4 linked regions of the Homo sapiens genome follow. The protein of the gene in region 2 interacts with the protein of the main gene of each other region in a biochemical or structural test. Each region holds a gene or a part of one and is shown on either strand. Other genes may lie near its edges. The genes, in order: GAB1, GRB2, SOS1 and KIT.

Region 1 (7,218 bases), on a different chromosome or scaffold from region 2:
GGCAAAGAAAATCCTAGTTTCTCCCAAGCTATTAGGCACATTCATCCTCCTGTGGAAAACACAATGTAGGCAGCCCACTGTCTCTCTCAAATGTTCCCATAGTTTCAGTCTACATTGAACTTGTTCCTCAGAACAGCCAAAAAATACCCATACCACTCAACTTAGACACACAGTCATATACCACTTTGCACTGTTGGCTTTTTCACATATACTTGTCTCGTGGTCCCAAAGACTCAAAGAGCTACTTAAAGGCAAAGACTAGGTCTTACATTTCTTTAGCACTGTGCACCTGATCCATAGTCCACCTCATTCTTGTATTCTCAACTAATATTCAGAGTCAGGAAAAGTTATAATCTGAAAGGACCTTTATTTTGTTGTTGCTATTTTTGAGACGGAGTCTCACCCTGTCATCCAGGCTGCAGTGCAATGGCACAAACTCTGCTCACTGCAACCTCCACCTCCCAGGTTCAAGCATTTCTCCTGCCTCAGCCTCCCCAGCAGCTGGGATTACAGGCGTACACCACCACGCCCGGCTATTTTTTGTATTTTTAGTAGAGACAGAGTTTCGCCATGTTGGCCAGGCTGGTCTCCTGACCTCAGGTGATCCACTGGCCTCGGCCTCCCAAAGTGCTGGGATTACAGGTGTGAGCCTGAAGGACCTTTAGAGATAACCTAGTCTAAGCTCCACATTTGAAATGAACTAGGTGAGAGTCGTTAACCTTTTACAGTCCAATCAATCAGGCAGATCTGGGTTCAAATGCAGGACTGTTTTCTGTAAAATAGAGATGACACCTACCTCAGAAAACAGTTGTAATGATCAAATTATACTTTCCTTTTTGTTTTTCTTGTTAAGACATAATCTTTTTGGCTGATTTCTTTCCTGGTTAATAGTTCAATTGAATTCTAAGCCCAAGAGGCAGGGCTTTTTTCCTTTTTCCTACTGTATTTTGTGACCTTATGGTTGGTGTCTAATACAGTGCCTGGCGTCTTTTGAGTGAGCCATGAACTAACCATGTGAAAGAATGAATTAAACCTATATTATCACTTTCACGTTCAGCAAATATGTTATTCTTTAATTCCTCCAAGAATCTGTTTTTCCTAAATTGGGCCTTCTCAAAACAAATATATTTATCTCCCTACCCCTTTCTCCCTTCCTTCTCTGTCACATACACACACACACACACACCCCTACCTTTCTCTTTAGAACAGCTGGAAAAAAAAACACTGCCTCGTTCATATTTTTGGAATAAAGTTAGCATTTTTACTAGGATATTCAGGAAAACTGATAGATGGACAGGATTTGGAGGCATTACACATCTCTGGAGAGCTTTCTTATGATTTGTGGCATCGAGTCTTTCAATAAAATTACTTGTCTATAATAAATTCTGGCAGAAAGTAAATCAGAAATTCACTGGTGAGTTGTCAGTGAAGTTAAATACTTCACTCTGTGTACTTCACTCTGTTCTATACAAGCAAACAGTGACTAACAGGATTAACCTGAGCTCTAATACTGGGTGTAGATATTCCTCAACGACAAACGGGTTCCCTTCGTACAGGCATTAAATTTATATTATATTTAAGGGGGCATAAATTTTGCTTTTGCAAACACATTTTACTAGAAAAATATTTGATCCAGATGTCAGCACAAAAGTGTCATTTCTTTCCTTTGCAAGGGAGCAGCAACAAAACAACCAATGGGGAGGAAGAATAAGATCCCAGACCTCTGAAGAGGACACAGGTTTCCACTAAAGCAAGGTTGATACTTTCAAGGAATATTTTTCCTAACAGCTAAAACGGTTTAACACATAGCATCTTGTATCAATTACACAAACACCATTAAAGCCACTCTGGTTCCCTGGGAAAGGACCGCAACTGAAATCCCTTCTGGCTTCAGCTGTCCCCTCCTGCCGAGTTTGACAGCACATCCAAGGCGCCCAAACACCAGCCACTAGGCTCCCCCCCAGCGCCCTCCTCTCGCAGCAAACCGCCAAGGCTCCCGGGCCAAACTCCAAAGTCCCTCAATTCAAAACCGCGAAAATGTGAACCCTGCTAAGCAAACGGCAGGGCGCGTAATAACTTTTCTTTCTTTCCCTTTTGCGCGCGTTCGATATGCTTGTCTCTACTACCAACTCCTCAGCTCCACAGCCCGCTTCCCGCAACCCATCTCGAGGGGCGGAGGAGAGGGAGCGCCCACCAAAGAAAGGGCTAGTGAGCCCTAAAACCTCGGCAGTTTTCCCGGTGCGGGAGCTTTAGCACACATCAGCCCAATAATCAGATGCAGGAATAAAGCAGGAAGAAGGCTCCTCTCTCCATCGCACCCCATCCTTCCTAAGGAAGAAAAAAAGCATGCAGCAGGAGTTTAGCTGGACGTCTAGGTCCTTTTATGGGGCGAACAGGCCCGCAAAGCAGGCTGTCTGGAACCTGGAGGAAGAAAGTTGTCCGGCCAAGTGGATGCCTGGGCGTGAGGGAGTGCAAGGCACCCTGTCCCGAGCCCGCCAGGGGTAGGGGCCAAGGGGAAAGAGACCGGCATTCGTTTAAGAACCAGCCCCGCGCGCGGCCAGCTGCAGCCGCCGGCGAGCCGACTGGGGAGGGGTGTGGACGCCGAGGCCCGCGGAGTGGTGCCCGCAGCTCTACTTACATAACGCTTCAACTTTTTCTCCGGGGGGGACTTGCGGAGCCATCCGGAGCAGACCACTTCACCACCGCTCATGGTGCGCGCGTCTCGGGCTCCGGGCCGGGCAGCTGAGGGGCGGCGGGCGCGCTCCCGACACAGCCGACGCCTGCCGAGCGCGCAGTGGCGAGAACCTAGCTCTCCTGGTCGCGCACCCCGGACGGACTGGGCGGACAGACTCCACGGTGCGCGGGTTCCACGAGTTCGAGTCTCTCCTCTGCAGGCCCACGAACCTGAACAGAACGCGAGCCGGGGCCGCGGGCGCGCCGGCCTCCTTTCAGTGCGCCCGCCTCGCCTCCAGACGTGCCGTCTCGCCAGCTGCCTCAGCAGCGCTCGGACTCAGCGGGACTCTGCCCCGACTCGGTGCCGGAGCTTCTGTCCTTTGCGCTCCGCCCCCTAGGGACAAGACCTCCCCAGAGCGCTTTCCGAAACAGACACAGCGCTGCTCACACACACACACACACACACACACACACACAATGCCCCGCGCGGTGCCCGCTCGCCCGCCCACCCGCCCTCGGTTTCGATGCGCCCGGAGCGATCCTCCTTCCCTCTCCTCGGGGGAGGGTGGGTCACTTCGCGGCGCTCGGTGAACGCCGAGGAAAGGGGAAGCCGCGAGCCGCCTACGGGCAGCGGGCGCGGGGCTGGTCCCGGGTCACAGAGGGAGCCGCAGGGTTGGCAGCGAAGCGCGGGGCGTTTCTGAGCGGCGGGCGCAGGGAGGTCGCAGGTCAAGCCGGAGGGTGGGTCCGCTCTCGCGGCCGCCGAAGAGGGCGGGGAGCAGCAGAGGAACGAGGCGCTTGGCGGCTTGGCTCCTGGGAGGGATCCCGCTGTCCCGTCCCCTCGCGCTCCTCCCCCGCCGCCTCCCCCACCCCGGGGCTCGCGGCAGGTCCTGAGCGGCTCGGCCCCAGATCCCGATCCCTCCCTCCCTCTCCCGGCCGCCGGGCTCCTTCTTCCTCCCTCTCCTCCTCCCCTTCCCACGTTCAGGCCCGGCTCCGGTTTCTGCCCAGACTTTCTCTGAAACTCCGCCGGAGTGCTTCCAGCCAAAACAACAAGGGCCGGGGGAGGAGACGGACGAAGGGAGGGAGCAAGGGAGGGAGGGAGCGCGAGTCCGAGAGGCACCCTGGGATCTGTAGTTCGGGAAGCAGGAGCAGGGTCCTCCGCCGTCCGGCGGCCCCCAATCGGCTCCTCGCCCGGGAAGACCGCAGAGGCCTCGGCTAGGGCAGAGGCACCGGGGCTTGGGCGCGGGGAAGACTGAGGGACATTCGAATGTTCAGTCCGGGGCTTGCCATCTTGACTCAGCCCGGTGCCAGCTCGGAGCTTGTGCTGTGCTCGAGATCAGGAGTTTCGAGGGTTTTCTTTACTTGAGAGCCTGAAAGGCAAAACCGCGGGGAGACCACCATCCTGCCGGTCCCCGCCGCGCGAGATTAAAGGACAGACCAAGAGGGCGCGGGAGCTACCAGCTTGGAGGGGAGGACAGATGGGGACCCAGGGCTGGCCAGGGCTGGTCTCTGGAGCTGTTCTGCCAGAGTGATGGGGGCGCTTGGCGAGGCCAAGGATTTGGTTGGGTCCTATCTCTGAGACATTTTGAAGTCTCACACCCCTTCCATTTGTTGCCTATTCCACTTAACTTTGTATTTGTTTGAAATCTACTGTTCGGATGCTGGACTAGAAGAGGGACACTTGGCCGGGCGCGGTGGCTCACGCCTGTAATCCCAGCACTTTGGGAGGCCGAGGCGGGCGGATCAACTGAGGTCGGGAGTTCAAGACCAGCCTGACCAACATGGAGAAACCCAATCTCTACTAAAAATACAAAAATTAGCCGGGCGTAGTGGCGCGCGCCTATAATCCCAGCTACTCGGGAGGCTGAGACAGGAAAATAGCTTGAACCCGGGAGGCGGAGATTGCGGTGAGCCGAGATCGCGACACTGCGCTCCAGCCTGGGCAACAAGAGCAAAACTCCGTCAAAAAAAAAAAAAAAAAAAAAGAGAGAGAGAGAGAAAGAAGGAAGGAAGGAAATTTACTGGGTACCCTAGTTCTATTTGCCTACTTCCTTGTGTGTTTCACAATTATTATACTGGTCCTGAGTTTAACATGATTCTGTAATAAACATCTTCTCCAATTTATTTGTGAAAAAGCCCCAAAGCCAATTTCAGCAGATAATATAATCAGATAAAAGTGCTAAAAATATGACGACATAAATGAGCATTTCTGGAAAGACATAACTTCAGTCATTTTCTTATTAACACAACATTCATATTCTGAAGCTCCTCTGAGTTTGAAAATGTTAGATGATTGTAATAAGAAATTAGGTGCTGGAGTGGTGACAAGACAAAGATCCCTGCATATATGGAGGTAGTGGCATAGGGTAGTAAGCAAATAAAGAGTCAACAAAACTACAGATTGAGACTCAGTCTCAAAAAAGAAAAATCTGAAAAAGCCTGGTTCCCACTGGGGTTTAGAGACCGTCATCTTTTGGCAGGCACTTAACAGTATCACAAGGGCGGAACTTCTTGCAGATCTGGATGCACTTTTCAGGTCATCAACTGAGTAGTCGTGACCTTGGGTAAATTACACAATGTCTCTGAGTCTCAGTTTCCCGATATGTGAAATGGGAATTGCAACACCGATTTTGCAGAAGTTTAATGAGAAATAGAAATGGTAGTGTTGGCCAGGTGCGGTGGCTCACGCCTGTAATCCTAGCACTTTGGGAGGCCTAGGTGGGTGGATTGCCTGAGCTCAGGAGTTTGAGACCAGACTGGGCAACTCAGTGAAAACCCGTCTCTACTAAAATACAAAAAATTAGCCGTGGCGGCGTGCGCCTGTAGTCCCAGCTACTCGGGAGGCTGAGGCAGGAGAATCGCTTGACCCGGGAGGCGGAGGTTGCAGCGAGCCGAGATCGCGCTACTGCACTTCAGCTTGGGCGACAAAGCGAGATTGTGTCTCTAAAAAAAAAAAAAGAAAAGAAAAGAAAAGAAAAGAAAAGAAAAGAAAAGAAAAGAAAAGAAATGGTAGTGTTGGTCGGTTAGTCGGGCGCGATGGCTCGCGCTTGTATTCCCAGCACTGTGGGAGGTCTAGGTGAGCAGGTCACTTGAGGCCAGGAGTTTGAGACCACCCTGGCCAACGTGGTGAAACCCAGTCTCTACTAAAAACACAAAAATTAGCCGGGTGTGGTGGCACGCGCCTGTAGTCCCAGCTACTCGGGAGGCTGAGGCAGGAGAATCGCTTGAACCCAGGAGGTGGAGGTTGCAGTGAGCCGAGATCGTGCCACTGCACTTCAACTTGGGAGACAGAGCGAGACTGTCTCTGAAAAATAAATAAATAAATAAAAAGGAAAATGGTAGTGTTGGTTGGGCGTGATGGCTTGCACTTGTAATCCCAGCACTTTGGGAGGTCTAGATGAGCAGGTCACCTGAGGCCAGGAGGTCGCGACCATCCTGGCCAACGTGGTGAAAACCCAGTCTCTTCTAAAAACACAAAAATTAGCTGGGTGTGGTGGCGCGTGCCTGTAGTCCCAGCTACTCAGGAGGCTGAGGCACAAGAATCACTTGGACCCGGGACAGGGAGGTTTCAGAGAGCTGACATAGGGCCACTGCACTCCAGCCTGGGTGACTGAGTGAGAGTCTGTCTCGAAAAAAAGGAAAAAAGAAATGGTAGTTTTAAATATCAGGCACATATTAGATATTGTAGGATTTTTGCTGTTTGTTGCTGTATTTCTTAATGTTCTTTCTGAAACATAAACAAGCGTAATTTTTATGGCAGCTAATAAACCAAAGCACTTCTTTTTAAGTATGTGAATATAAATCATGCCACAAATCTTCCAAATGAAAATAAACCATCAAATTTGTTTTCCTCTTCTCCCATAGGCAGCATGTAGCTACATTGAGCCAAAAGTATAATTAGCATTAGTAAGACTAGTATTGTTGAGTAGTTAACTATTGGCTTTAGCAAATTTACCATTTCCTACACTCTTGTTATAAAGTTCTTTGTAAATGGAAAATTGTAATATATCTTGTATTATTTAGCTTTGGGAATTTCCACAAATTTTTTTCTTTATTTCAAATAAGGCATTCAGTTATCTCATTCCTATGTAAAAAATCTTTAAGTGTTTTTCCTATCTTCTACTGAGTTGTTTTAGGCTTGTATTTCTAGAAATTAAATCAGGGTTGAAGAGAAATTGAAGATAGATATGTCTCCATGTATATATTTTAGAAAGGAAATTTGCCTTATTTTTATATGTCATGTTTAGATTATTTGTTAAATCATATTTTATATCTTTATGCCTTAAAAGGCACGCTGGAAAAAGTTATTATATGTTAGTATCTTAAATTTTATTCATACAACGAATATTTATGGGATGCCTATTATATGCCAGTCCCTGAGGACCCAGGATACAGTAGGGGAAAGCCAGACCTGTTCCCACACTCCTCTTTCCTAGAGAAAAGCTTTTGCAGATAATTAACCCCATCATTTTGGCAATACAGTTGATAAATGCTATGGAAGAAAATATAGTGTTGTTTGGGCATATAACAGAGGATGTACCCCCCAGG
Region 2 (7,024 bases):
GCAATTCTCCTGCCTCAGCCTCCCGAGTAGCTGGGGTTACAAGCATGTGCCACCACGCCCGGCTAATTTTTGCATTTTTAGTAGAGATGAGGTTTCACCATGTTGGCTAGGCTGGTCTCAAACTCCTGACTTCAAGTGATCCACCTGCCTCAGCCTCCCAAAGTGCTGGGATTATGGGAGAGAACGCTGCGTCCAGCTTGTCAAGCTTTTCAACAGCATACTGAATATTTCCACCTGCATGTCTCCTGGAATGCTGAATTCTGCATTTCCAAAAATGAGTCATCATCATGTTGGGGCTCAGAGAATGATACCCCAAAGTATGCTCCTCTGGCATTCTGAGCACTTTTGAATGAAAGGAAATTGGAAGGACTTACAAGCTGCCTCAGAACCAAGGACTTTTTAAAGTCTTGTTTCACCACCCCACATGCATGCAGGGGCTGTCTGAAAGTTCCCTTAGCTGACTGAGAAACCAAAAGAAATTCAATTGTGTACTTGCTTTGGCAGCACATATACTAAAATTGGAATGATACAGAGATTAGCATAGCCCCTGAGCAAGAAGACATGCAAATCTGTGAAGGGATCCATTAAAAAAGAAAGAAAGAAAAAGAGCAGGTGTGGTGGCTCACGCCTGTGATCCCAGCACTTTGGGAGGCCAAGGCGGGCGGATCACCTGAGGTCGGGAGTTCGAGACCAGCCTGACCAACAGGGAAAAGCCCCATCTCTGCTAAACATACAAAATTAGCCGGGCGTGGTGGTGCATGCCTGTAATGCCAGCTACTCTGGAGGCTGAGGCAGGAGCATCACTTGAACCTGGGAGGTGGAGGTTTCGGTGAGCTGAGATCACGCCATTGCACTCCAGCCTGGACAACAAGAGTGAAACTACATCTCAAAAAAAAAAAAAAGAAAAGAAAAGAAAAAAAATAGATGCGACTGTCTTAAAATTTCCTCCCTAGGACTCTCGTCAAATAACCAGGAAATATTAACTACCAGAGAAGAGAAAAGACTAAAAGTTGTCACCACATCCAAACAGACTTTTCATCTATTCTCCTGAGGACAGCTGAGATTATTTAGGAGACTTTATCTGCATAATAAGACAACCTTTATTTACAGTGAAGTCCTGCACCTCACCTTCCTGAAATTTGTCACAACCTCCAGCTCCCAGAGCTCAGAGGAACTTTGTCCCAGGCATTGTTTGGGCTCATTCCTTTTCCCTAAAAATAGTTGACTACCTTTCAGTATTGCTGACCTCCGCTCATCTCCCTCTCCTCTGCAAAGATGGTGCTCTTTAAGCTTCAGCCACCTGGCTCTTCTCTGAGTCTCATATTCTGTATGGTAACCATGCACACTGCATGTCAGTAAATTTGTATGTGCTTTCTCCTGTTAATCTATTGCCAGTTTATTTCAGCAGACTCAAACTGTCAGAGTGGAAGGGAAAAATTCCCTTCACCCTTACAATCATCTCCTCACCTGCCCTTCCCTGTTCTCTGTGCCTGCCCCCTCCAGTCAGCTATGCCTCTTGACTGGCAAATTTCTGTGTTCTCCCTGTTATCCAGGCCCACTCAAAACAAAAAACTGCAATTCTTCCCTCATGTCTTCCTCTCTGCTTAGCAGCTAAGTCCCTCCCTTCCATTTCTATTTTTTTCTGACTGCTATTTTAGAACAAAGTGGCATAGTGCGGGAAAAAAATGAGGATTTTAGAACAAGACAGGCCTTAGTCCAAATCTTAGGTCTACTATATTTTGGCTTCCTTGGGTAAATTACTAACCTCTCTAAGGCTTAGTTTCCAAGTCTGTAAAATGGGGATATTACCCACCCTGTGGAGGCGCTATGACTTAAGTATGCATCAAGTGGTAAATAGAGGGTCCTTTTCTTATTTTCACCTCATATCAGACACCTCCTGCTCAGAAACCTTCAGAGGTTGCCCATCACTTGACTATGACACCTAAGCCATGCATTTTGCATTTTGGCCCCTCTCTCTCATCACTCTTCCCCCCAATTACTGGGGCTTGGACTAATCAAAAACATTGGTTGATGGCCAGGAGTGTTGGCTCACATCTGTAATCCCAGCACTTTGAGAGGCTGAGGCAGGTGGATCACCTGAGGTCAGGAGTTCGAGACCAGCCTGGCCAACATGGCGAAACCCTGTCTCTATTAAAAATACAAAAATTAGCTGGGTGTGGTGGCAGGCTGCTGTAATCTCAGCTACTTGAGAGGCTGAGGTGAGAGAATGCTTGAACCCAGGAGGCGGAAGTTGCAGTGAGCCAAAATCATGCCACTGCACTCCACTCCAGCCTGGGCAACAGTGCAAGTCTCAAAAAAAAAAAAAAAACCAAAAAAACAGGCATGGTGGCTCACGCCTGTAATCCCAGCACTTTGGGAGGCCAAGGTGGGCGGATCACCTGAGGTCAGGAGTTTGAGACCAGCCTGACCAACATGGAGAAACCCCATCTCTACTAGAAATACAAAATTAGCTGGGTGTGGTGGCACATGCCTGTAATCCCAGCTACTCGGGAGGCTGAGGCAGGAGAATCCCTTGAACCCGGGAGGCGGAGCTTGCGGTGAGCCAAGATCGCGCACCATTGCACTCCAGCCTGGGCAACAAGAGCAAAACTCCGTCTCAAAAAAAAAAAAAAAAAAAAAAAACAAAAGGCTGATTCCATTACTCTTTCCTCTTTCCTCCCTGCTTTCACTTTGCCGTTCAAACCAAATCCTTCTTGATTAGCTCAGCACCAAGTACTGGCTCCCTCCTCAGCCATCCCTATGTGTAGTTCAGTGGCACTTGGGGCCAACTGCTTGTCTTACAGATTAGGCAACTCTAGATTACAAAGCACTGAAAGCAGGGGCTTCATCTGGTTGGTCTTTGACCCTGCAGAGCCCCTTGCACACAGGTGATGCTCAATAAATACTTGGTGAAAGCACAATTCATTTTCTGTGTTTCAATGGGCTTCTTTTCTCTATAGAATCAGATGCTTGGTTATTCTCACCTCAGCGCTATTTTGTTGGCTTCCAGAAGGCACAGTAACGCTAGGTGTGTTGTGTTCTATCCTTTAATTGGAAGAGCTTTGGGAACTGAAAAATAAGAATTATTTCTCCAAGCCTCATCTTCTGCCACTCCCCCGTACTCACCGGCCTCATACAGGAATTGAACTACTTAGCACTGCACAGAACACGACTTTCTCTCTCACGCCTCCGTTCCTCTGTACTTAGCCTCTGTACTTACGTGCCATTCCCTTTCCCTGAAATGCCCTTACTCTGGCTTCTCTGCCTGGCAAATTCCTACTCATCCTCCAAGACTCAGATCAGACATCGCCGCATCACATCTGTGAAGGCTCTTCTGCAATGGGCAGTGTAGCAGTACCCCCTCCATTTTTTTAGCTTCCTCAGCAAACTCCAAATAATTATAACAGTACTTATGGCATTATTTGTTTATTTTTCTTCTACTTCCTAGACCGTGAATTCCTTAAGGGCCAAGATTTCTGTTCTATCCCCAGCACAGTGTTCGGCCTATATTGGAGAATCCGGTCCGTACAAACTCTGCAGTGATTCAATCAATGAGCAAACAAACTCACCAATCATTCAACACAGCAGAGTTTGTACGGACCGGATTCTCAAATATTTTAAGACCTGGTCCTCTATTTGGAGTGCTTCATTCTGGAAGATCTCTTCCTCCCCCAAGCCCCTACCCATCCAACTGCCTAGGTTTGGTAGAAGAGGAAAATAAAGTGATTAGACGGGGGAAGAGTCCTTCAGGGCTAAGCTGTCATTTACCCGCTCTGGCACCGAGAGGGTTACGGCGACCCGGGGGCGGAGCCGTGCGGAGGCCACCTGCTGCGGGGAGGTCTGGCGCATGCGCCCTGACACCTAGCTGGTTCCCTACCCGCAGGGGCCCGGCTGAGGAGGAGCGCTTGCGCTCTGGGCCTTTTCCGCCGGGGGAAGTCTCGCGGGGGCGGGGCGGGGCCTCGTGGAGAAGTTCTCGCGGGACACCGACGGGGAGCGGAAGCCAGGAGGTATTGCTGCTTCGGCGACCGGGCGGCGGCAGCGGCGGCGGCGGCTGTGGCAGAGTCTGTGCCTGTGGCGGTGACGGCGGCGGGAGCAAGCGCTGCCCTCGCAGAGCAGCCTTGGGGTCGCCGGCCGCTCGCAGCGTTGTGGAGGGGCGGGCCGGACGCTGAGCGGAGCAGCTGCGCCACGGTGAGTACGGGAGGCTGCGCTCGGCGCCTCTCTCGTGCCTTTTCCTCTTGGCTCTACAGCGGGAGTGGGCCCCGGGGGAACCGGGACCGGCCCCGGGGTTCGCGTCGGGGCGGCGAGGCTTGGGACGTGGAGCGCAATCCCCGGGGCTCCGGACTCTACGTTTCCCCTTTTGGGGCGCTTCCTTCCTGGGGACCGTCCTCCTCCGGCTCTTGGCTCTGGGCAGTCCGGGGGAAGAGGTCGGGGTTCTCTGGCGAGGTCCCCTGCCTTCATCGGGAGGGTTTGCACGGAAGGGGCCCGGGAAGCCCAGGCGGGCCGAACGCCGACCGAGTCAGTCTACCCGAGCCTGGCGGCGGGGGACTGGTGTGGGCTGCAGCTGTGGTGATTGATGTGCCTTCGACCTGCACGGCAACCACGTCACCATCTCCTGGCGTCTTTGGGCTTAATTTTGTGCGGGAATCCACTTTGGGGTGGAACGTTTGCTGCTGGAGCCGGGGGAGATACCTTTATTCTGACACTTAAAAAAAAAAACTATTTGAAAAATATTTGTCAAGAAAAATTCAGCAGTAGCAGGTTGGACTGCACCGAGGAAGGATTGCGGCGAGAGCGGGCGCTGGTAATTTTCATTTGCAGCGCGCCCTCTCTATGATTGTAAGCCACACATGAGTTATGGCTTGTTTAGAAAGTTTTTCAAGGCTGGCTTCAAACGCTGTGAAAGTGCAGTTTGCAGGGGACTGAAGTGCACTTGAGGTCTGTCTCTTTTTGATGCTGTTGACTTTCCGAAATGTCAGACACATGAGAGAAATTAGCATTAGTCTATTTTGGCTTTCTTACTCCTCTTTCTCCAGTTATTTCCTTCCTTCTCTATCTGCTTCTGTCCTTTCCACTAGGGACACGAAATGCTTGTGTAATGCAAGTCATTTGCCCCTTCCTCCCCCCACCCCCCCCTTTTTTTCTAATGTACTTCCCCTTCCTCCTTGTAGTCCCCACTCTGGCGTAATTTTTCGAGGTTTCTTCCCTTTCGTGCTGTTCGTTTTCTCTCATTTCAAGATTCCGTCTTTTTCCTCGGGAAGAGACTCTCTTTCCTTGCTTTCGTTCCTTTACTTTTGCGCGTCCCCTGCGTTCCCTGCAGTCAGCCAGAAGGGTTGCTAGAGAGCCGTGGGAGGCTGAAGTCCCCTCTCTGAGAACGGGGAGGCTCAAAAGATTGAATTCATCCCTAAGAAATCAGTCCTGCCACTAGGTCGCAAGTGTGGTTTGCTTGTATTATTTTTGTCTTTTACTCTTTTTCTTTTAAGATTATGCTTCTGTGCCTGCTTATGTTTTCTTCTAGTATGTCTTTATAATAGGAAGATTGGGTCAGCTCAGTGACTTTTTTTTTTTAGGCAGAGTTTTGCTCTTTTTGCCCAGGCTGGAGTGCAATGGTGCTATATGGGCTCACTGCAACTCTGCCTCCTGGGTTCAAGCGATTCTCCTGCCTCAGCCTCCCGAGTAGCTGGGATCACAGGCGCCCACCACCATGTCCAGCGAATTTTGTATTTTTAGTAGAGATGGGGTTTCACTGTGTTGCCCAGGTTGGTCTTGAACTCTTGACCTCAGGTAATCCACCCGCCTTGGCCTCCCAAAGTGTTGGGATTACAGGCGTGAGCCACCGCGCCCGGCCAGAGTTAATTCTTATAATCAGCTTTCTTCTACTAAACACAAGCATTTATTTATTTATTTTATTTTTTTGAGACGGAGTCTCGCTCTGTCGCCCAGGCTGGAGTGCAGTGGTGCGATCTCGGCTCACTGCAGCTTCCACCTCCTGGGTTTAAGCGATTCTCCTGCCTCGCACTCCCGAGTAGCTGGGATTACAGGTGCTCACCACCACACCTGGCTAATTTTTGTATTTTTGTAAAGACAGAGTTTCACCATGTTGGCCAGGCTGGTCTCGAATTCCTGACCTCAAGTGATCTGCCCATCTCAGCCTTGGGATTACAGACATGAGCCACTGCGCCCGGCCTGAACTCAAACGTTTAAATGTTTGAGGCACTTTACTTCGTCAGCAAGTTATTCAGATTTGAGAGGCTTGCTGGGTTTTAAATACTACTGGTTGATGGTACTTAGAGATTCTTCTCAGTAATTGCTGTTATCATGTTGCATGTTGTCCATCAGAGTTCTAATTGTTACACATACAACAGAAGAGGAATGGATTTTGGAGAAATGAAGTAATACAGAATAGAGAGTCACCATGCCCTCCGGAGAGAAATTAATACTTGCTTAATTCAGAGGAACTCTCCACCATTACTGAATGGCTTTTGAGAGTCTGTATATATATATATATTTATATATATATATATTTTTTTTGGTCAAAGTTGCCTTTTTCCTAGTTGTGCCAAGTGAATACGCATTATTTTCTTTTTCCTTTTTTTTTTTTTTTGAGACAGATTCTCGCTCTTGTTGCCCAGGCTAGAGTGCAGTGGCACGATCTCAGGTCACCACAACTTCCACCTCCTGGGTTCGGGCAATTCTTCTGCCTCAGCCTCGCTAGTAGCTGGGATCACAGGCATGCACCACCACGCCTGGCTAATTGTGTATTTTTAGTAGAGACAGGGTTTCTCCATGTTGGTCAGGCTGGTCTGGAACTCCCGACTTCAGGTGATCCACTCACCTCAGCCTCCCAAAGTGCTGGGATTACAGGCGTGAGCCACCGCGCCCGGCCAATATGCATTATTTTCATTTCATGCAAGGACATTGTAGTGCATTATCTGGAATGCAAATTTTAAAATCTGGTTAAGGCATCCTTATGGTATAGCAGTTATTTAAAATTTAGTATCCATAAAAATCACTGGGAGATCTTTTT
Region 3 (7,026 bases), on a different chromosome or scaffold from region 2:
TATGTCATCCCAACATATTCCACTCAAAGCAGTACAAAGTTCCATTGTTTAAGTTTTTCAAAAGGCAGAGTTTGACTAGAATTTTTTTTTATCAGTTATAATACTATACTATTCTTTTTTTACTCTTACGGTTTTTTCCCAAAATAATCTACTTTTAAAAACCTATAATTAATTATTTCAGCCAGTATCTGCTGCATATCTTATTCCTTGCTAAACACTTACACGTCTTCACTGGGAAAGCTTGCAGTCTTACTGAGAGATTAAAAATAATCATAGTGCAAAGAGATTCACAGTTAAACGCTAAAAATAGTGGTAAAGACATAAATACTGGAGAAGCTTATAGAAAGATGACCTCAGAATGAGCAAGAGTGGTCATGGAAAGCGTTGTGGCAAAGACAGGGCAGAGAAGTGGCCACGTACTTAGTGCTGCCACACATACATTCAAAGCCCTGCTCCACACCTTGCCCTGGCCAGGTCCACCTTTGAGGTGATGACGACAGTTGCTGAGAAAAGAGAAAAGACCACTGGCTCACTACTTGTTTCTGCTGCTATAATAGAGAGGAGAAAATGATGAAATGCTCTTTTTACCTTCCTGTTTGAAGATTGCCTGGTCATAAAAGGGAGTCAGAGGTCTGACTTCTCCATTTCCATCCCTTAGGGGACTCTTTAACAACAAAAAGAATGTATTACAAGTATGTCAAGCTGATAACGCAAGGCTTTTCCTCCTGGAAGATTGCTGTAGGTGATGAGTTTCTAATCCCAAATATATTTGCATTTACCAGGCTTTTGTGAGTTTAAGAAGTTATCTATCATATCTTTTTTTTTTTTTCTATAGAAAAATGCTTGTTTCTATCAAGAATGACTCCTTTATAAACTGGGGAGTATCTTTAAGAGTGGTTTCAACCCTGACTGTATAGTATCATCTGTTGAGGAGCTTAAAAAAAATATGTAGGCCCAGCCCACACTAGACTGGCATTGGTACCTGGTATCAGTATTTTTTAAAAACTTCCCATAGGATTCTAATGTACAGCCAAGATTGAGGACCATTTGTCTGTCATCTGGGATTATGCTTAATAAATTAATACTGTTTTTTAAATTAATTAGATTTCACTTCTAAGTCATTATCAGTAAATTTACTCAGTATCTAACTGACAAGAATTTCTAGCATATATTTCTTGATTAGTGCATGTAAAATTCTAAAAGAATTTCTATAGTATTTTCCAGGCAATAAGACAACTAGTGCCCCAAATTTACCAAATGCATGAGTCTAAGCCTGTGCTATATATAAATATACTCAAAGCCAAGTTTACATCTGTGTACACAAGTGTGCATGCATATGTACAATTAAAGACTATAGTTGTAACAGTCATGAGCTTGTGTTTTGATTTTACTCCTATTCCTGTATTGTATTAAGTGTACTATCATGTTCTTGAGGCATATCTCCAGGAGATATGTTTATTTCTTTTCCAGGAAAAGTGGGACATATATAAGTAGGGTAAACGCTAGAGCTAGATACTCCTTTAATCTCTATTACGTCAGATCTCTGGCTCCCTTTTACAACCAGGCAATCTTCAATTATAGGTGGCTAATAGGGAAGAAAATCATCGGCAGAGCAACAGCTTCATGTAATTTCAGAGTAGAAAAATGAATTTTAATCTTCTGAAAGGTAATATTAGAATTAGCTGGATTGCTACACTTAGGAATCATAGGTTCCAAATAAATATCAGTACATACGGAAATCAGATAATGGGACAGATTATTTGAAATTAGGGCTGCCTAGAAATCTGGAATGTGAGATCACCCTCCTTCTGACCAAATATGCTTGAATAAACTTAATATTCCAAATTATGTGAGGGATTGCCTATTGTGCAAAAAAAAAAAAACGAAATCTGAATTTAAAAAAAATTACCACAGTCTAGTATTATTTTAGTCTCTTGGATGTTATAACGTTATCTGTTCCATCTGTTGTTAATATGAGACACTGTACAAACAAACAACTATATTGATTTAGAATCAGTATAGATCACCTAGCTTTTTGTCTCAATTTTCCTACTTTAATGCTCTTGGGGCTTTCGCTTTTGATTTTCAGTTTTTTCCTTAAAATAATTAATATTGTTGAAATTAGACTTTCTAAATTTAAATTTATCAGAATTTCCTATGTAAAATGAGTCTAGGCACCAAATGTTTAATGACTTTAAAAAAAATGTTTATGACTATAAAAGGAAAAACCCTGTATCAATTTCAAGCTTGTTTTATATCCAAAGTGCTAGTTATTTTGTGATGAGAATATATGCCCCAAGAACATTTTTGAAAGACATATAATTAGTAACTTTTTTATTTTTCAACTTACATAAAATAAACTTATTACTTGTTTCACAAGTTTGAGTTTTCAAAATAATATTTACTAAATGGCATATTTATATACATCCAGCTGAACTTTTTGCTTGAATTGGGTTTCTACATTTTAAAAAGTCTTTCAGTAATATACGATTTTTTTATGAATGTTTTTCATTTAATAATTATGAAATCAAGTAAAGCTAAAAGGAATCTTAAATTCCCAATATGATATCATTTTTTTCTTCTCAAAAGTAAGTAGTAATGAGGTTTTACTATAAACTGTTACAGCATTCTTTAAAACGACAATGACAATAACATTTTCATCATAATACAAATTTTTGCAGATGAGTTGAATATATCAATGAAAGAAAAAAATCTACTTTTTCTTGTTTCCTTTCACAGGCAATGATACCGTCTTTATCCAAGTTACTCTGCCCCATGGCCCAAGTTAGTATATTTGGTTTAAGACTCATAATTCTTGCTTTGGCTTTAAAAATCAAACCAAGTGTAACCTTTCCTGCTAAAACTCTTCTTGGGTCTGGCAGCATTGGTACCTTGCTTGCAACATCCTAGAAGTGAGGCCTTCACTTGTGCTATCTTTAGATCATAAGTGATTTGCTTAAATTTATATATTTCTCATGCTTTTTATAAAACCTTGTTTCTCTCTTAAAAGAACATATTAAATAAGTGGCTTCCACATTTAACCATTTCTTTTTTCCAACTATAGAGTTCTAAGTATATTTTAATGCTCAACTTTGAAAAAAAAAAAAAGGCAAGAGCATGCATGCGCATATGGGAATGCTGGCAGCTACATGCAGTTTCTAAATCACAAAATATACTTAGCCTGATGGCAGGATAGATTATAGACAACTGCTTTTGACTTTAGAAGAACTTTCTTATAATTGTAATTATTCAAAGTATAGCCTAAATACTGATAAACAAAATAAAGTTCCATTTTAATTGTAAGGTAAACTAACAAGTCACTAAATTCCATTATTTTAATTATTTAAGCTAATATTTTTTTGCTGTCCTTTCATACAATTTCAAAATATGTACAATGGAAAATACTAGTTACAAGCTGAATTAACTATATTCTTAAGAAAAAAGGTAGGTGATCAAAATGTTGATCATTTAAATAATATCAGTACACAAAGTACTCTTTTTAAGTTCTATATTTTATAACATGTGACAAAATAAAAAGCTTAATGCTTAAAGGGAAAAAAAACTGCCAACTATAATTTTGAATGATGGTTTAAGTATTTTTTTCACATCTTTTTTTATAGTAGGTATAAACAACTAACTTAAGTGTTGTTTTCCAAAGTGTATTTATATGCCTACCTTATGTTCTTGTTACCATAAATGTCTGTAAGAGAGGTTCTAATTAGTAGCTTTACTTACTTTTTTTGTGCCAGTCCACCAACTTATTCTTAAATCAGATTCACTAGATTTTAGTGTAATTTCTGTTTTCATGGTCAGGGCTGCCTCCGTTGTCTTGAATAGTGCCATCACCGTTAAAATTTTTGGATTTAGAGTATAATGAGCCTCTTTTTGCTTACAGGCAAAGGGGAGCCTATAACTAAACAAAATGAGGAGAGGCCCCTCACCTAGACACTATGATTCTTTCCCTTGCATCCTTTGAGAGAAATGCTAGGGAGAGACATTGGAGAGAGTGGTTAAGAGCACACACTCTACTCCCAGGGACTATCCAGTAAGGTGGGGAAGTTCTATAAATTCTAATAAAGTCAAAGAAAAAAATGAACCCATTATAGAATCTAAAAATTACCATTCCAAAGATTTTCAGTAGCTCACTGTCTCCCAGACATCTGAGAATCAGACTCAATTAAAAATTTCAATAATAGAGTAACCATGGGAATGTTATTTTGTTCAGGCAAAATAACAGAATACCTTAGGCAGCTTTTTTCTAAATATTCTGCTAAAAAATGTCTGCATGCTTTTATGGCAGTTTGCTTTAATGAAATACTATTCGGTATTGGTTTATTGAACAGCTTTTGGTATTTCTACACATTACTTTTAATTATAAGCAATTTCCAGCTAAGACTTTTCAAGGTAAATAAATGAAATAAAATTCCTGTGGACTTTTTCTTAAAAATTTAACATCCCACAGGATCTGCTTCTGTATCATCTATAAGTTTAACCAAAGGCACTGATGAAGTGCCTGTCCCTCCTCCTGTTCCTCCACGAAGACGACCAGAATCTGCCCCAGCAGAATCTTCACCATCTAAGGTAAAGTAAGAAATCTTGTTGTGTAGAAATTGGAATCATTACAGTTCATTATAATAAACGGCTGTCTAGTTTAGTTCTCACTAGGATAAGTTAACATTTCAGAGTATACAGGCTTAATAGTTTAAACAAGGATTACATATAGATTTAGCATGCAGTAATGTTTCTTTCTTCTGAAGGTAGTTTTTTGGTATGCATTCAAGACCCTTGTAAACCTAAGGCTATGGTTATTTTCAGAAAAAAACAAAAGTTTTAATCTGTAAAGTAAGAGGAATTTGGTTTCAAGCAGTTCTTTAAAAGCATACAGAGAAAGTCCTGAAGCTTTGTATGAAGGCACATTATAAGTCAAACTGTATTTTGACATATGCTAAAATTTACTTATCTGAGCCCTTAATAGTAAATCTGACATACTTTTAAATGGAGTTTTCATGAAAATTCTGGGTTTGGAAGAGACCCCAAAGGCTCAAAATAGCTATTATTTCTACTTATTTAATTTTGTTTTTTTCTTTTTGGCCAGCTGTTAAACTTAATTCATTAGTTCTTAAGCTGTCCAGAGTGCAGAGCACCAGGATAAGTCAAGACAAGACACTCTTTGTAGAACTTCATGAATGTTAACATAGTTAACTTAAAATTATAAAATAGGTACTTTATGCTAAATTAGAAATGATCTTAGATTGAGTGATAAGCTAAGCAAGCAGTAGCAAACAAAATTTTGAGGAAAAAAATTTAAGTAAAAACTACGGCAAACTTTTTTTTTCTATGAATTGACAGAACCTCCCATTTAAAACATATGCCAGCCTTGGCAACAGAGCAAGACCTTGACTCTACAAAAAATGAAAAAAATTAGCCAGGCATGGTGGTACATGCCAGTGGTCCTTGCTGCTTGGGATGCTGAGGTCGGGGGATCACTTGAGCCCAGGAAGTTGAGGCTACAGTGAGCCATGATTGCACCACTGCACTCCAGTCTGGGCAATAGAGCAAGGCATTGTCTCAAAAAAAAAAATTTTTTTTTAATTAAAAAGAAAACATATGGCAAAACTCCCTGTTCCACACTTAGCATCCTGCCAATAGCATGTTTGAAAACCCCAACTTAATTCTTATAGTCATGATACTTCATAAATTTATTAATAAATGTGTATTTTATTCTTTTCATTTGTTAGATTATGTCTAAGCATTTGGACAGTCCCCCAGCCATTCCTCCTAGGCAACCCACATCAAAAGCCTATTCACCACGATATTCAATATCAGACCGGACCTCTATCTCAGACCCTCCTGAAAGCCCTCCCTTATTACCACCACGAGAACCTGTGAGGACACCTGATGTTTTCTCAAGCTCACCACTACATCTCCAACCTCCCCCTTTGGGCAAAAAAAGTGACCATGGCAATGCCTTCTTCCCAAACAGCCCTTCCCCCTTTACACCACCTCCTCCTCAAACACCTTCTCCTCACGGCACAAGAAGGCATCTGCCATCACCACCATTGACACAAGAAGTGGACCTTCATTCCATTGCTGGGCCGCCTGTTCCTCCACGACAAAGCACTTCTCAACATATCCCTAAACTCCCTCCAAAAACTTACAAAAGGGAGCACACACACCCATCCATGCACAGAGATGGACCACCACTGTTGGAGAATGCCCATTCTTCCTGAGTTCCTCTGTACTGGGATGTATATTTTCCTAGCCCCAAATCCATTGCTGGCAATGGATGCACTGAATGTGCCAGCACTGAGGAGTTAAAATGAGAACTCCAAACACTAACGACTCTTCTTCAAGATGCAGTATAAGACAATGAATTTTAACCTAGATGTAATTATACAATGGAAATGGTATTCCAGTTTAGAATATGGAAAGACCGACCTAGAGGAATTGGACAACTGATTGCACCTGAAAATCATAAAGGGACTTTTTCTGGCCAATAGGCAGGAGTCCTCTTTTTGTGAAGTGATCTTTTGTGAAGTGATCATTAAAGGGATGGAAAACACAGTCTAGTGTCCAGCAGGCCCACATGACAGTTTTTGTAATTCAAATTATGCACTTTTAAAAAAAAAAACTTAAACAGGGATCTTAATATCTTCCTTTGTTTTCCTTTGCTTTACTCTTCTACTTTAGAATATTTTCTTAAAAATCACTCAAAGGACTGTGAGGAAAGGCTGTGGTACCTGACCTTGTTGAAATCAAGGCCCGGCACTGTACTACAGGCCTGTTTACAGATTATTACGGTGAACTGAATGGGTACCGAGGCTTCACCAAAGAGGTACTTTTTTGTTGTTGTTGTTGTTTTAGGAATAATTGTACCAATTTTAAGAGCATTCCCCCCACCTGTCCCCACACACCCAAACAAAATGTGGTGGTGTTGCCTTCAAAAAAGAGAAGTTTTGTGTCATTAACATGACAGAAGAACTTTTTAAAAAAAAATAACTGTCAACTATTCTATTTGCATTTAGG
Region 4 (7,026 bases), on a different chromosome or scaffold from region 2:
AAGAAGAGCTTCCAAGACGTGTTATGCAGGAGGCAGAGATCGTTAACATATAGTGACTGATGGAGGAAGGTTTAAAAAAAAATCAAGTTGGTTCAGATAAACACCAATAATTTGGATGATTTTCTGAACCATCTGGACCTCTTCAATCTGCAACATTTGGCTGGAGACTCTTCAAGATTTCTAGTACTTCCTGCTTCTGATTAGCATAGAAACACCATGACAACAATCTCCTTCAGAGTGTGCTGGTGGTTCCAATCCCATATGGGATCCCAAAGCACAAAGAACATCACACAGGATTGAACAATTTAGGCCATTATATCAGAAAGTTAAAGGATATATATAGGGCCAAGGTTTCGGAAAGAAGCAAAATGGCTCATTTCTTCATATAATGAGCACATGCCCAGGAGAAACTAACAAAAAGTGGTTTTGTACAGTTTCTACTACCACTTTAAACTACTCAAGTTTATAGGATTAAAAAAAAATAAAAAGTTTCACCTGGGGTTTTAAACTTTAGCCAGAGGTACAGAAAATGGCTTTAAGGGGTAATTGCCCATCAATAATATTTACTGAGGTCTCCTTGAGGACCTGGTGTTAAGAGTTCAGGAGGCAATGTCTTGCCATTGCAAGATGCAGTGGATATAAAGTGCATGAAAAGGATAGGAGAAATCTACCACACAACTGCAGCAATATACAGTATAGGGGACTGGGCAAAATAACCATGACTTCTGTTGGACTGGGTACATCTAGGAAGTCTTCTCAAATGGTGGCCCTTAAGAGCATTTCCAAAGAAAGAATAGGCAAGATATGAGAAGAATTCTTTTCTGGTTGTAAGTCAAACTCAAAGCTCTTTATACATGATTCAAATTCAGAATGGCATCAATGATGAAAGAGATGAGAATAATGTCCAGAATTTTTAAAAAATGTGCTGGAGTAGTTATGTCTTTTAATAGCATGATGAAATAAAAAGGGCAAGAGGCAAGGTATACAGGAATAATCCAGAGGTCGATGGCAAGAAGCCTACATGTGGAGATATGTTCAGAGCTCTTTGTCATTCTGCTAAAGGTTTTAAAGGGACTTTACTGTGGCAACTTGAGAGGCTTTAGCATTTTCCCTATAAACAGTATCTCACTGGAAACATGCATGTAGTACCAAGCTCAATAGTATAAATGGAAATACATGCAGGACAGAACCGTAAGAGAAACAGATATAGAATGCATTCAGTTGCATGGAACTAAAGTGTAGAAGAAAACTGAAAATACATTTTTAAAAAATCAGCAAAAATCTAGGTTTGAATCTTTAAAAACACAATTTAACTTTCTAAACTGTTAATCACATTTAAATGATTTAATAATTTTGATTTCATACCTCAGAGTACCTCAGTTCATTTTTTAAAGAATCAGCCTTGATTGCAAACCCTTATGACCCCATGAACTGCCTGTCAACAGCTAACTATTTATGTAAATCAGTCTTACCAGGAAGACTCCTTTGAATGCAGAAGATTCTTATAAAGTGCAGCTTCTGCATGATCTTCCTGCTTTGAACAAATAAATGAATCACGTTTTCTTCTCAAAAAATTCAAAAGATCACCATAGCAACAATATTCTGTAATGACCAGGGTGGGCCCTAAAAGCACATAAGAAAAGGTTAGAAAGAAGGTGAGATATATAGATTAATTCTGCCTCCCATAAAAATACCCAAGGGTGGTCATGGCCATTAATATTCAGCTTCAGTGGATCAGACTACTTAGTCCCAATACAATCCCATATATTAACACTGCTTATCAAAAAAGCAGCCTTATGTGGAGTAACATAAAACAAGCAAGCCTCTTTTAACCTGAATTTCTAAGTGACATTAGTATTTGGAGCCAAGCATGACTGCTGGTTTTACAGAGAGAAGTTACTGCTTTCAAAGATTCTACTATTATCAAGCTTCCTACGTGAATCCTCTGGTTCACTTCTGTTTACAGCAGGGCTTCACACACTCTCTGTAACGTTATTATGGAAATAATGAAGGCACAAACTGTGGCATAGTGGGAAAATCAGCCACAAGGAGCAGCCAGCTGGGACAAGACTGGAAAGTGAGTGAAAACCTAAAATGACCTGTGTTCTGAGCGCTACTAGTTGAAAAATTTTTTGGTGCTATGAATGTTTAAACTGTAGTTTAGAAGTAACAGGCAACTAATTAACTTGGGTAAGAAATTTTCTCATGAACAATTCATGATGTGGTGAAGCAACATTTATGGGGATTATTGGAAGACATGATATAAGGCTGTCAACTTTATCGTGGATCTCCAGAAACAGCTCATTTTACACATCTTTGTTTCTTTCAACTGAAATACTTTCTGCAAACATCACAGACATCCTTGATGGGAACTTCAACTAAGGCTTCAAATTGGAAACTTATTTTTAGAGAAGTGAAATGTTTGCCTCATTTGGTGTATATTTGAGAACCAGTAGGCTTAGGCGCCTGTTTTAAATTGTAGTATGCAAATTAATATTAACCCTTTCAGTGGCTACATATGATCAAGAAATGTATAAAGCTTACAAGATAACAGAAGCCTTCTGGTCGGGATGAGATATTCAAGAGGCTGATGTCGTTGATGTTACAAATACGACAATAACTAGGGTATGTCCTGGGCTGTTCTACCCCATAATGATAAAATTAAAATCTGCATTCTTAAGAACAATGAGGAAAACAAAATCTAGCAAGAGAGAACAACAGTCTGGGTAAAAAAATCTTCCAAGCAGTTTATAATCTAGCATTGCCAAAATCATATTAAAATGTCATGTTTTGATAACCTGACAGACAATAAAAGGCAGCTTGGACACGGCTTTACCTCCAATGGTGCAGGCTCCAAGTAGATTCACAATATTCATGTGATTACCAAGGTAACTCAGGACTTTGAGTTCAGACATGAGGGCTTCCCGTTCTGTCAAATGGGCACTCGCTAAAATTGGAAACATGCATTTTAGCAAAAAGCACAACTGGCAAACTGATGTCAAGCGCATGCAGTACCATACAGGAACTTACGCTTGAGCATCTTTACAGCGACAGTCATGGCCGCATCTGACTTAATTAAGCCATAAGCAGTTGCCTCAACAACCTTCCCGAAAGCTCCAGCACCCAGGGTTTTCCCTGTAGGAAGGAAGACAACAAGGTAAGTGGTGATGGTGCTGGTGGTGGAATTGAAGGACCATTTGTGCAGTTTCAAAATCAATAAAGGAATTAAAAACAATGTTGTCCAGAGACATTTTCCTACGATGTTCTCTATGGCAAACCTATCAAAAGGGGCGCAATTTCACAGAAAACTCATTGTTTCAGGTGGAACAAAACAAAGGAAGCCACTGGAGTTCCTTAAAGTCACTGTTATGTGTACCCAAAAAGGTGACATGGAAAGCCCCTGTTTCATACTGACCAAAACTCAGCCTGTTTCTGGGAAACTCCCATTTGTGATCATAAGGAAGTTGTGTTGGGTCTATGTAAACATAATTGTTTCCATTTATCTCCTCAACAACCTTCCACTGTACTTCATACATGGGTTTCTGTGGGGAGAAAGGGAAAAATAGATCACCTTTTAATAATTATTGTCTCAGTCATTAGAGCACTCTGGAGAGAGAACAAATAAATGGTTACCTGTAAATATTTGTAGGTCAGAATCATCACAATAATGCACATCATGCCAGCTACGATTACGAAACCAATCAGCAAAGGAGTGAACAGGGTGTGGGGATGGATTTGCTCTACAATGGAAGAGAAATGTGGAATCACAAACTTTGGCAGGATGGGATCTCTACCACAGCCACTCAGTCCCAAACTGACCCCACCTCCCAACTCACAGCCCATGGCAGGATGCAAAGCTATGTGAGTCTCAGAGCTTCACCTTGGTTACATTGTACTCTTGTTATTCAAATGAATCTTTAAAAATATAACTTGAAACCACAATACTGCAGAATAGAAGTTGAGATTTCTGTAGAAAAGGAATAATTTATGCTGTTTTTCAATGAAAAGCAACATCTGAATGCACTTTATACTTCAATCAAATTCCTGCCTTGTACAACTTTAAAAAAAAGAAGCTTCCTTTATGGACGGTTTATATTTTCTTCTTTAAGCTTTCCTGTATTTTCCAAATTTTCTACACTGAGCATGAATGTCTTTCACAACCAAAAAAAAAAAAAACATTTTTAAGGTATTCTTTTCGTTGCCCTGTCTGAAAAACATGGAAGATTCTTCCCCTCACTACTCAAAACCTGAGAAAACACGCCACTTTTTGGCACTAGTCTTTGCCGACTCAAAAAACGAAAACAACAAACAAACAAACAAAACCCCAAGAAGGCCTAAAAAGTAAGTGCCCAGTTTCTTTGTCTTCCCACTTTGTACCAATTCATCAGTTTGCCCAAAAGATCTTTTAACTTGTTAAGAGAGTTAGTCACACATGAATCAAATTTTAAATATTTTAAAGAAATAACTTGCTAACATGACTTCATAAAGGCAGTGTTAACTTTTGGATACAGTGTCTGGCAAAGTGTTAAAATAATTCATTTTAAATAACTGAAATTTTTAATTGAATTTAAATTTTAGATTGTTCTAATTCTGTTTGGGTGTAAGGTAAATATATTCCCCCATTTGCTTTCTCTAGCTCTTTTTAATGGAGACAATTGTAAATATACAACTAATAGAGACACACATACATATAAAATATATAAAGTAGCATGGTTAAAATTGCTCTGGTAAAAGCATATACTTAACAAGCTAGTACAAAATGAAACTTAGTGAGTTTGATGACAGTATGGTGTGATGCATGTATTACCAGAAATGACATGGTCAATGTTGGAATGAACTTAAAATCATGACTGATATGGTAGACAGAGCCTAAACATCCCCTTAAATTGGATTAAAAAGAAATATACCTTTGTTGTTACCTTTAAATGCAAAGTTAAAATAGGCAGAAGTCTTGCCCACATCGTTGTAAGCCTTACATTCAACCGTGCCATTGTGCTTGAATGCACTAGAATCTATAGAACTCTGAACCACTAGCTTTCCAAACGGTGGCCCAGATGAGTTTAGTGTCTGCACATCCACTGGCAGTACAGAAGCAGAGCATCTAAAGGGAAGAAAACAAAAGCCCTGGCTTACTCTAGGAAAATAAATAAATACATAAAACACTTGGGATGTGGCATACTTTTAAAACAAAGTTAGAGGTTCATAATCAACAGAAAATGTCCTTTTACAAGTGTCTAAGAATAAGCACTTTGGTGACCTAGTGAGTGAAAAAAGCACTGGGGAAGAGAAGGCAGAGGAGGCTTCGGAGTCAGATGCGGGTTTGAATCCTGATGAGTTTTTAACCCCCACCAACACTGAGTTTCTACGACTGTAAAACAGGGATAGTAATACCCATTGCAGAGGGTTACTGAAAGGATTGGAAAGGAATTCAATAAAATGGCAGGCATATATGCTGGTACACAGTAGATCCCTAAAATAAACAAGCTTCAAAAGGGTACACGAATGGTTGAAAAGAAATAGCATAGAGGAGGAAAGCATAAAAAATCTTCAAGGGGCCGGGCGCAGTAGCTCACACCTGTAATCTCAGCACTTTAGGAGGCCGAGGTGGGCAGATCACCTGAGGTCAGGAGTTCAAGACCAGACTGGCCAACATGGTGAAACCTCGTCTCTACTAAAAATACAAAAATTAGCTGGGCGTGGTGGCAGGCGCCTGTAATCCCAGCTACTCGGGAGGCTGAGGCAGGAGAATCACTTGAACCCTGGAGGCAGAGGTTGCAGTGAGCCAAGATCACTCCATTGCACTCCAGCCTGGGCAAGAGAGTGAGACTCGGTCTCAACAACAACAACAACAACAAAATCAAGGATGTAGACCAGAAAATAGTCAAAGTGAGGACTGAAGTTTGAGTTCTAAGCAGGAAGGCCTAGTTATACTGCAGGTGGCTGAGACCACCACTGCAAGGGATCCTTTTCATGAGCCAGACCCCGACTTCCCTATTCTAAACACCTAGCTATTCCCTGTTTCCTTTCTTAACACCTACATACATTCATTGTTTATTCCATCTATTATGTGTTTCTACCCACTAGAACAAGCTTATCCAACCTGCAGCCCACATGTGGCCCAGGACGGCTTTGAATGCGACCCAACACAAATTCATGAAGCTTAAAACATTATGAGATTTTTTTGCAATTTTTTTTTTTTTTAGCTCATCAGCTATCGTTAGTGTTACTATATTTTATGTGTGGCCTAAGACAGTCGTCTTCTTCCAGTGTAGCCCAGGGAAGCTAAAAGACTGAACACCCCTGCACTAGAACATAAACTCATAAAGGCAAAAAGACTTGGGTGTGTTCTGTCCATTAGAATAGTGTCTGGTACACACTTGCCACTCCCTGTGTATCTACTGAATGAATGCCTGTAACTACAGGGCTTGCTTCTGCTGTGGCCATTCCTCCCAGGGGCCTTGAACCCTACTTAGTATTCCCCAAAAGAAAACACTCTCCTAAACCCCAGCTGAAAACAGCAATCCGATGTAACCCCTTCCAACTTGTTGTGATAAAGAGGCTTATTCCATGAAAAATAAAATTTCTGCGACCATACTAACTATTCAATTGTGATGTTAACCTGGGCTTTTAAAGCCTGAGCATAAAATAGCAATTGATGGATAAAAACAGCTGTGGTGACCCCATTTTCGTCTTCAGGTAATGCAAAAGGGCAATTTAAGGCTTAAGTGTGGATGGTGAGGGGCAAGCAGCACAGTGCCAGATGTTCTCTGTTCAGGGGCTGGGCACATTATCAAGAAGAAACCCTTTTTAAAAGCGGTCGCTTGCAAATGCCATATGTATGTTGTAATTGTGCGATCATTACTTTTTGGTAACTTGGCAATTAACTACTGAGGTAATTTTTTCATGATAACTACAGTCACATTTCCCACACACATTACCTCCTGTGTATAGAATGGAAATCTAATTACTCTGTCCTGCAAAATTGCTTTATCTACCTGCAGGCTAGAAATTGCATGATAAATCCAG

What was found.
Region 1: the proteins of GRB2 (region 2) and GAB1 form a complex in vitro, tested with the Homo sapiens proteins (5 studies listed by BioGRID and IntAct, with this or other methods).
Region 3: the proteins of GRB2 (region 2) and SOS1 form a complex in vitro, tested with the Homo sapiens proteins (15 studies listed by BioGRID and IntAct, with this or other methods).
Region 4: the proteins of GRB2 (region 2) and KIT form a complex in vitro, tested with the Homo sapiens proteins (5 studies listed by BioGRID and IntAct, with this or other methods).

What each region holds. Positions count from the first base shown.
Region 1 is NC_000004.12:143,332,681-143,339,898, reverse strand, and holds the start of GAB1 (GRB2-associated-binding protein 1), read right to left. Parts: upstream 3,024-7,218; 5' UTR 2,711-3,023; coding exon 2,639-2,710; intron 1-2,638. UniProt on the Homo sapiens protein: Adapter protein that plays a role in intracellular signaling cascades triggered by activated receptor-type kinases. Plays a role in FGFR1 signaling. Probably involved in signaling by the epidermal growth factor receptor (EGFR) and the insulin receptor (INSR).
Region 2 is NC_000017.11:75,402,653-75,409,676, reverse strand, and holds the start of GRB2 (growth factor receptor-bound protein 2), read left to right. Parts: upstream 1-3,998; 5' UTR 3,999-4,188; intron 4,189-7,024. UniProt on the Homo sapiens protein: Non-enzymatic adapter protein that plays a pivotal role in precisely regulated signaling cascades from cell surface receptors to cellular responses, including signaling transduction and gene expression.
Region 3 is NC_000002.12:38,985,028-38,992,053, reverse strand, and holds part of SOS1 (son of sevenless homolog 1), read left to right. Parts: intron 1-2,739; coding exon 2,740-2,784; intron 2,785-4,462; coding exon 4,463-4,581; intron 4,582-5,738; coding exon 5,739-6,230; 3' UTR 6,231-6,690; coding exon of another isoform or gene 6,691-6,744; 3' UTR 6,745-7,026.
Region 4 is NC_000004.12:54,723,932-54,730,957, reverse strand, and holds part of KIT (mast/stem cell growth factor receptor Kit isoform 1 precursor), read right to left. Parts: intron 5,102-7,026; coding exon 4,908-5,101; intron 3,741-4,907; coding exon 3,634-3,740; intron 3,543-3,633; coding exon 3,416-3,542; intron 3,136-3,415; coding exon 3,031-3,135; intron 2,948-3,030; coding exon 2,837-2,947; intron 1,624-2,836; coding exon 1,473-1,623; intron 1-1,472. UniProt on the Homo sapiens protein: Tyrosine-protein kinase that acts as a cell-surface receptor for the cytokine KITLG/SCF and plays an essential role in the regulation of cell survival and proliferation, hematopoiesis, stem cell maintenance, gametogenesis, mast cell development, migration and function, and in melanogenesis.